Linked DNA regions of Homo sapiens. The protein of the gene in region 1 purifies or fractionates together with the protein of each later gene. This does not show direct contact. Each region holds a gene or a part of one and is shown on either strand. Other genes may lie near its edges.

Region 1 (5,426 bases):
TGTGCGTCCAGCACAGTGTCAGGGCCATAGTGGTGCTTGGTGAGTGAATGACCCTTTCCCCTGAGATTAGTTGATTCCAGTTTATTATAGCTTCAGCATGTGCTTGGGACTGTGGTGAAGACAAATAATGACTCTGTGGGGCTGGCGTTGTGGCTCATTGCCTGCTCTGCCCACACTTTTCTTTCCTAGGAAATATTTCTTTCCTAAAAAATATAGTCCTACCTTTCCTAAGGAATATTCTCCTTTGAGAGAGGCCCTGCTGCCTAGAGGGCCTTGTTCTGAACTGCAGCCTTTTTGGCCTCAGCTGATTGGACTATGGTTGGCTCCTGACCCAGGGTCAACCAATTCTTATGTGACTCAGACACTTGTAACCTTGTGGTTTGGCTCAAAAAGAGTCTCTGTGTTAATCATATCTCTCTTGAAAACATTAAAGTTAGAGATTTAGAGTAAAAGCAGAAGGGAGCAGAGGTGAATAGGCTGGTATGGGAGAGAATGGGTGGCCATAATAAGTCATGGGAATGCTGCTGATAGAAGAAAGCAGAAACTATGAGTGAGTAGAGAGATAGCAAAGAAAATGGAATGGATGGGCAGACACAGATCCTGAGAGAGGGTGGCGAGACCTTGGAGCCTGCCCTCCCGAATTTTATAGCCCTAGTTCCCAAGTAGCATTAAAATAAGCTCTTTTCCCCCCCTTGAAATGACTTGAATGGGTTTCTGTTCCCTTCATCCAGATTGGCCAGATGTATGACTGTCATGCCTGTAAGTTGTTTACAACCAAACTGGGGAGAAAGGACTTAAAGAGGGAATAAATAGTCTAAGAGGGGATGTTGTTAATTAAATATTGTGCATGCTGTGGGGGACGCAGGACCTGTGGAAGATTAGGAATTTAGTACATACTTATTACTGAACATAAGGCCTGCTGAGTGAACATTTCATTGAGGTGTGATTTGAGATGAGCCCTCACACAGTGCTTCTCAAACTCGAAGGTTCATAGGAATCACCTGAGGATCTTGTTAAACGCAGAGTCTGATTCAGGAGGTCTGGAGTGGGGCCAGAGTTACTACATTTCTGACAAGAATGTAATGCTGAAGGATGCTGGCCTGCAGATCACAGTCTGAGCAGCAGGATCCTAAAGGATACTGACATCTATTTCTGTAGTTAGGAGAGTGTTGAAGACAGTCATAACAAGAACAAATGGGGAAAGTGAACATGGCTTATTTCAGAGTTCTTAAGGAAATTGGCCGGGAGCAGAGGGAAACTTGGAAGGAGCAGGCTAAAAGTTTGGATAGGTAGATTACTGCCAGATTACAAAGCATTTTAAATGCCAAGGTGAGTCATTTGGACACAGGACCGAATATTTGAACAGGTTCTTAGAGTTCATTGAATCTAATTTCTTATTTAAGCCTAACTCCAATATATAATATCTAACAGGGCCAGTTGGGGGCCACATCGTTATAAGGGAGGGACATCCTAAAAGTAGTAACTTAGTTAAGTCTGGAAGTGTGTTGGCTGGTTTGGAGGAAAAGGTATGGTAGATAGACTCTTTTGCAAAACAGTCTTAAAATGACAAAAGTCAGAATTAGTATTAGAGTGGAACAGTGAGAATGGGAAGGGAGGAATCAGATTTCTGACTGAATCATTAACTCATTCAGCAGATGTCTACTGAACTTCAACTACTGTTACAGGCACTTGGGATACATCAGTTAACAGAAGAGGAAAAGCATGGCCCTGGAGGTGCTTACTTTCTAGTGAGGCAGGAGACAAAACACACACAAAATATGCTAATTATAGAATTTGTTGTGTGGCAAATGGGGAAAATGAAGAGAAAGCAAAATGTTTAAGGTGGGTGGATGGATTGCAATTTTAAGTAGGTTAGTTAGACTAGCCCTCATTGAAAAGTTGGCATGAAGGAGATAAGGGAGTTGGCCTGGTGGGGATCTGGGGGAAGGGTGTTCCAGCCAGAGCAAATGCCCCAAGGCAGGAGAGAATCGGGAATTAGGAACGGTGAGGGGAAGAATAGTAGGAAATGAGGTCACAAAGGTCATTGTGTTAGTCCGCTCTTAGGCTGCTAATAAAAACATACCCAAGACTGGGTAATTTATAAAGACAAAGAGGTTTAATGGACTCAGTTTCACATCGGGAATTAGGAACGGTGAGGGGAAGAATAGTAGGAAATGAGGTCACAAAGGTCATTGTGTTAGTCCGCTCTTAGGCTGCTAATAAAAACATACCCAAGACTGGGTAATTTATAAAGAAAAAGAGGTTTAATGGACTCAGTTTCACATGGCTGGGGAGGCCTCACAGTCATGGCGGAAAGTGAAGGAGGAGCAAAGGCAAAAGAGCGTGTGCAGGGGAACTGCTCTTTATAAAACTATCAGATCTCGTGAGACTTATTCACTGTCATGAGAACAGCACGGGAAAGACCTGCCCCCATGATTCAGTTACCTCCCACCAGGTCTCTTCCACAACACTTGGGGATTATGGGAGCAACAATTTAAGATGAGATTTGGGTGGGGACACAGCCAAATCATAGCAATCATATTATAGGACTTTGCTATTTAGTGAATATTTAGTAAACATAGGGCAGGAGAGAGAAGGACTTTTTTGAAAAAAGCAAGTCTCAACAATAATTTAGAATTCTAATATTAATAAGTTACCATGGATCTTATTGGTAATAGCATATTGATATTTTATTAGTAATAACATTGGTAGTAGGTTCATAAATTATCAGGGATCTTATTGGGCTGGCTTGTGAAGATTTAGTTGAGTAAATCTGTGGTGGGCTTGGGGATTCGCATTCTTAATGAGCCTCCCAAGATACCCTGGTGCTGGTGAAACACATTTTGAGGAAATTTCCATTACAGTCTTGAGCTTGACTGGTTGAGAAAATCTATTAAACAACAAGGAAATTGGGAAGGAGGACTAATAAAATAAGAGATGATACTAATTCAAATTTTGAGGTAACGGGGACATCCAAATGGACATGTTTTAAAGGTAGTTGGAAATTTTTAGGTGAGATGTGGGAAACCTCAAACTTGGGAATCTTGAGAGACAATAGTTGAAACCCTGATAGTGGAAAAATTTGCCATAAGGCAAGAGTAGATAAAGCAGAAGACTAAGAATTTTAGGTCTCTTTATTTAGCTGCCCCAGATAAATCAAATGGGTGTTTGAACTTAGCATTTGAAATCTGGAAACAGACTGAAATAATGGTAGCTTACACAAAATAGTTTTTCTCACTCCTGTAAAACTAGTGTGGAGGTAGACAGGGTTGGCTGTGCCTGCTACACAAAGTCATAAGGGATGTTGGCTCCTTGTGCCTTTCTGCTTCACTGTCCTGAGAGTTTGTCTTCCATAAAGTCACAGCATGGTTGCTGGGGTGCCAGCCATCATGTACAATAGTTTTAGCCAGGAGAAAATGGAAGGGTGAAAGGCAAACAGGTTTTTCAGAAAGCACCACACAAAAACTAATGCTTATTTTGCATTGGTTTCCACTTGCAGGGCAAGCTGGGAAATGGAAATTTCCAGCTGGACACATTACCCAGTGTTGTGTTACAAACGGAAAAGGGTGTATGGTTATTGAGCAGTGCATTAGTCCATTTTCACACTGCTGATAAAGACATACCCGAGACTACTCAGCTTGGAATTCATTGTATCATTATCAGCATTTTGGGTCAAAGCCATTCAACAAGTCTCTAGGGAGTTCCATACTTTCCCACATTTTCCTGCTTTCTGGGCCCTCCAAACTTTTTTCAACCTCTGCCTGTTACCCAGTTCCAAAGTCATTTCCACATTTTCAGTATCTTTTCAGCAGCACCCCACTCTTCTGGTACCAATGTACTGTATTAGTCTGTTTTCATGCTCCTGATGAAGACGTACCGAGACTGGGCAATTTACAAAAGAAAGAGGTTTAATGGACTTACATGGCTGGGGAGGTCTCACAATCATGGCAGAAGGCAAGGAGGAGCAAGTCAGATCTTACATGGATGGCAGCAGGCAGAGAGAGCTTGTGCAGGGGAACTTCCATTTATAAAACTATCAGATCTTGTGAGACTTATTCACTATCACAAGAACAGCATGGGAAAGACCTGTCCCCATGATTCAGTTTCCTCCTACTGGGTTCCTCTACGACATGTGAGAATTGTGGGATTTACAATTCAAGATGAGATTTGGGTGGGGACACAGCCAAACTATATCAGGCAGACAACAGAATCAGTCACAGTGAAGTTCTCAGATTGCCAAAGGCTCTTGCTTGGATAACATAGAAACTGCTCTGGAGCTCATACTTTACATATAATAAGGATTAAATTGTTCAGAACTAAAGAAATGCACACACACAAAAACTTCACATACCTATCCAGTGGTTTGTGTTTTCTTCTGTTGAATACTATAATGCTAAAATATAATGACATTTATTTGATTATGTAAAATATGTGCTAAACGATGTATCCAGAAGTTGTTTTAGGAATTGTTTTTCTAAATGGCAACTCTAAAATGTTTGTAACTATGTAGAATAGTATGTTTTATTTACATAAAAGGTAACAAAAGGAATAAAAAGTAATTTAAGCTGTCCTTAAAGGAAAAATTTTAGGACGCTATTCCAGGTAAAAGATGACTAAGGTTTTTGTTCCTTTAAAAACCACTTATTATGCACCAGCTGTGTGCCAGCTAAATGGGTGGTGGGACAAAAGGCTGTGGTCGATGAAGGAGGTCCCAAAGGAAACATGGAGATGAGTATGGAGATGAGTTCAGTTTTACCTGAAGTGGCACTGTGTGAGAAGGTGTGTATGAGTATAGCGATACAGCATGTCATCAATATTTGAAAATCTCAAAGTAGGTGTCATTTTACTTAGTGTAATTCTGGAGATATAAGTGTATTAGATCTGATTATTTTAGGTTTTCTATCTTCAGTGCAGAATTCATGGTTTGTTTTTTCTGTCATTTCAAAAACAGAATTGAAGCATATACCTAATGTTACAGCTGTGGGAATGTTTGCAAAGGTCAGAGGACACTTTTGAAGTTAACGAAATGTTTGCTGCGTGGGTCTCTATTCACATGGTTTCATTGGAATGTCAATGACATGAAGGCCACCACTTTCCCCTTCATTCTTTACTTCTTAGCGAAAGGAGCCCAAACCTTCCAATGATTGTATTCTCCGGGTAGTAAGCTCCCTAAGGGCAGGGGGTTTTGTCTGGTTTGTCCACTGATATATTGCTCCCCATGAGGACATTGCCTGGCACATAGTAGGCATTGGTTAAATGAATGAATCTATGTCCTAAAGATGAAAATGCCTTATAATCCAATTTGTAAAATACTCAGAGCTAAATCTAGATGTACTAAATCTAGTACCCTCCTACTGAAACCTTAGCACCCCAAAGGAGCGTTTTTGTGAGATTTGTTCGCTGCTGTACCCTCTACACCTAGAGTT
Region 2 (3,500 bases), on another chromosome or scaffold:
TTCATTTATTAAATACTTGCTGAGCATCTACTATTTGCAGGCGCCAATGATAAGTCCTGAGATTTAAAAACATGAAAACATTTACTTGCCCTTGGTGTCTTAAAAAAAAAAAAATTTTTTTTTCTTTTTTTTTTGAGATGTGGTCTAGCTCTGTCACCCACGCTGGAGAACACTGGCACAATCTCGGCTCACTGCAACCTCCGCCTCCCGGGTACAAGTGATTTTCCTGCCTCAGCCTCCTGAGTAGCTGGGATTACAGGCGCGCCACCACCACGCCCAGCTAATTTTTGTATTTTTGGTAGAGACGGGTTTCACTGTGTTAGCCAGACTGGTCTCGAACTCCTGACCTCATGATCTGCCCACCTTGACCTCCCAAAGTGCTGGGATTACAAGCGTGAGCCACCATGCCCGGCCAGAAGCAGGTCATTTTAATACAAAGAAATGCATCCCGGCCGGGCGGTGGCTCCTGCCTGTAATCCCAGCACTTTGGGAGGCTGAGGATCATGAGATCAGGAGATCGAGACCATTCTGGCTAACACGGTGAAACCCTGTCTTTACTAAAAATACAAAAAATTAGCTGGGTGTGGTGGCGGGCGCCTGTAGTCCCAGCTGAGGCAGGAGAATGGCGTGAACCCAGGAGGCAGAGCTTGCAGTGAGCCGAGATCGCGCCACTGCACTCCAGCCTGAGCGACAGAGTGAGACTCCGTCTCAGAAAAAAAAAAAAAAAGAAAAAGAAAAAAGAAATACATCCCAACATTAGATATAAACAAAGTGGTCTGGGATTGTTCTAGAGAGAAGGAACAAACTTTGTTCCTCGTCTACAAAACACAGCTGATATATCTTCCCTTGCAGGCATGTTGTTAGGAATAAATAACATGCTGAATTATAGAGATTCACAGAACAGGTGACATTTAAGCTGGATCTTGAAAGAGGAGAAGGGGTTTGCCAGGTGGAGATGGCGCACAAAGGAAGGTTACAGACGGTTAATGTCAGGACCATCCTACCCTAACCAAATGTTCTCAGCATCAAATAAGGTTGGGAAATACTTGGAAAGTAGAAGTACCATATAAGAATACGGTACTGATAAAACTTGATCAGCCATTCAAGTGAAGTCAGAGCGACCACACCACCCAGCTTATTTTTAAAATTTTTTGTAGAGAATTACAACTCCCCATGCCACCAAAGAAGATTTGTAAATGGATGGTAAATAAGCACATGAAGAGTTGCTCAACATCATTAGCCATTAGGGAAATGCAAATCAAAACCATAATGAAATACAACTACATGCCTATTAGCCAAAAAAAAAAAAAAAAAAAAAATTGTGTTTAAACTGACAATACCAAATGCTGGGAAAGATACAGAGCAACAGGAACTCTGACATGAGAGTAGGAATGCAAAATGAGACAGCCACTGTGGAAGACAGTTTGGCAGTTTCTTAGAAAGTTAAACACATTTACTCTATGGCCCAGGATCTCATTCCTGGGGATTTACTCAAGAGCAATGAAAACCCCACTCAAAGATCTCTACAATCCACAAAAAGAAAAAAGACATCTACACAAGTATTTATCACAACTCTATTCATAATAGTCCCACACTGTGAGCAACCCAAATGTCTATGGAAAAACAAACAGATACCTTTATATCATAGAATGCTATTTGGCAATAGAAAGGAACAAATTGTAATATATGCAACAACATGAGTAGATCTCGAAAGCATTCTGTGAAGTGAAAGAAGCCAAACACAGAAGACCACATATTATATGATTCCATTTATGTGACATTTTGAAAAAGACAAAGCTATAGGGACAGAAGTCAAAGTAATGGTTGTAGAGGTAGGGGAAGAAGATTTGCCTAACTGACTACAAAGGAGCATGATGCAAAAGGAAACTTTTTAGAGTGTTGGGAATGTTCTATATATGAAGTGCTGAAGTGATTAAGCCATTAAATGCATTTGTCAAATCTCATCAAACTGTACACTTTAAAAAGGTGAGTTTTAGTAAGATGTAGATTATATCTCAATAAACCTAAGTAACATAAGATTCCCCTAAGCCTCTGTTACCCCAAAATCAGGCTCAGGAAGGTGGCTTCCTGACTCCCACCAGCTGCTCACAGCTTCTCTTGCACAAATAATAACTTGAAGACAAAGCCCATACTTGTGCCCTGATCAGATGTGATTTTACCCCCAAAGCCAGTGCCTACACTTCCATGCCTACTTCTGGCTTCCAGCCCTCAGCAGGGCATGCTGGGCCCAAGCTCTAATTTGGGACATATAATCCCCATTTGCAACCCATTAACCTAGCCAAAGTCTCTGGTCCCTGGGGTTGAGCTTGCTGGATGTCTGGCTCACCTACTACAATGTCATCGTCAGGATGAGGGAGCAGTTCTGCTTGTGTGCCTTGGGCATCATGCAGCCAGATACAGCCCCTGAAGGTCTGTTTGGGGGTCTTTCATTTCAGTGCTCCTCACATGGGTCAACTGTTCCAGTGTGCGGTGGGCCACCCGGGTTCAAGACATCTTCACAGCTGGGAAGCTCCTGGCCTTGGCCCTGATTATCATCATGGGGATTGTACAGATATGCAAAGGTGAGTATCGCAGGAAAAACAGGTACTGCCCAGCTTTCCTCCCCTTGCATGTACACACCCTCTCAGCCCAGCTTTGGAAGTATGCCACACCCTGAGATTTCCCCAATTCTAGCCTTGAGTGACTTCTCTTCTTCTTCCCTTGCTTGACAAAAGGGAAGGAGAAACCATTTTCCCCGAGGTGGCTGGGAGTAGGGAATGCTCCCTTTAGGCTGCAAAGGTCACCTCTCCCATGCTTACCTCAAGGCTGTAGCACAGCTAGGTAAAGACCCCACATATCGGCCGAGTGTGGTGGCTCACACCTGTAATCCCAGCACTTAGGAAGGATGAGGCAGGAGGATCACTTGAGCCCAGGAGTTTGAGACTAGCCTGAACAGCACAGCGAGATCCCATCTCTACAAAAAAATTTAAAAATTAATGGGGCATGGTGGTGCATGGCTGTGGTCTCACTTACTCTGGAGGCTAAGGTGGGAGGATCACCTGAGCCCAGGAGTTTGAGGCTGTAGTGAGCTATGATTGTGCCACTGCACTCCAGCCTGGGCGACTGAGCAAGACCTTGTCTCAAAAACAAATAAACAAACAAAAACCCCAGATCTCTAGATTCCTATTGTCTTTTTGCCCCAACCCCAGGGAAGCTCCCTGCATCTTCTGTTGAATCTTGTCCACATCTTAAAGTGGAGGACAGAGAAAGGTATTTTATGTTTCAAAATTACTTATAATCTCTGAGAGAGAGAGCTCTGCATTCCCGGGGCCCCTGCCAACATTCCCCACTGGATTTGGCCCTTTCCAAGCCTGAGGCTATATTTGGTTTCCATGGGACCCATGGCACCATGAGGCTCTGCCCAGCGTCACTGCCTCACGGAGAAAGTCAGGTGACAAACAGGGAAATTTCCCACAAGCCCTGAAGGCAGTGTGGGCAGC

What was found.
Region 2: the proteins of ATP8A1 (region 1) and SLC7A8 fractionate together in Homo sapiens (co-fractionation; one large-scale study listed by BioGRID). This does not show direct contact.

What each region holds. Positions count from the first base shown.
Region 1 is NC_000004.12:42,649,680-42,655,105, reverse strand, and holds part of ATP8A1 (phospholipid-transporting ATPase IA), read left to right. Parts: intron 1-5,426. UniProt on the Homo sapiens protein: Catalytic component of a P4-ATPase flippase complex which catalyzes the hydrolysis of ATP coupled to the transport of aminophospholipids from the outer to the inner leaflet of various membranes and ensures the maintenance of asymmetric distribution of phospholipids.
Region 2 is NC_000014.9:23,142,161-23,145,660, reverse strand, and holds part of SLC7A8 (large neutral amino acids transporter small subunit 2), read left to right. Parts: intron 1-2,456; coding exon 2,457-2,582; intron 2,583-3,500. UniProt on the Homo sapiens protein: Associates with SLC3A2 to form a functional heterodimeric complex that translocates small and large neutral amino acids with broad specificity and a stoichiometry of 1:1.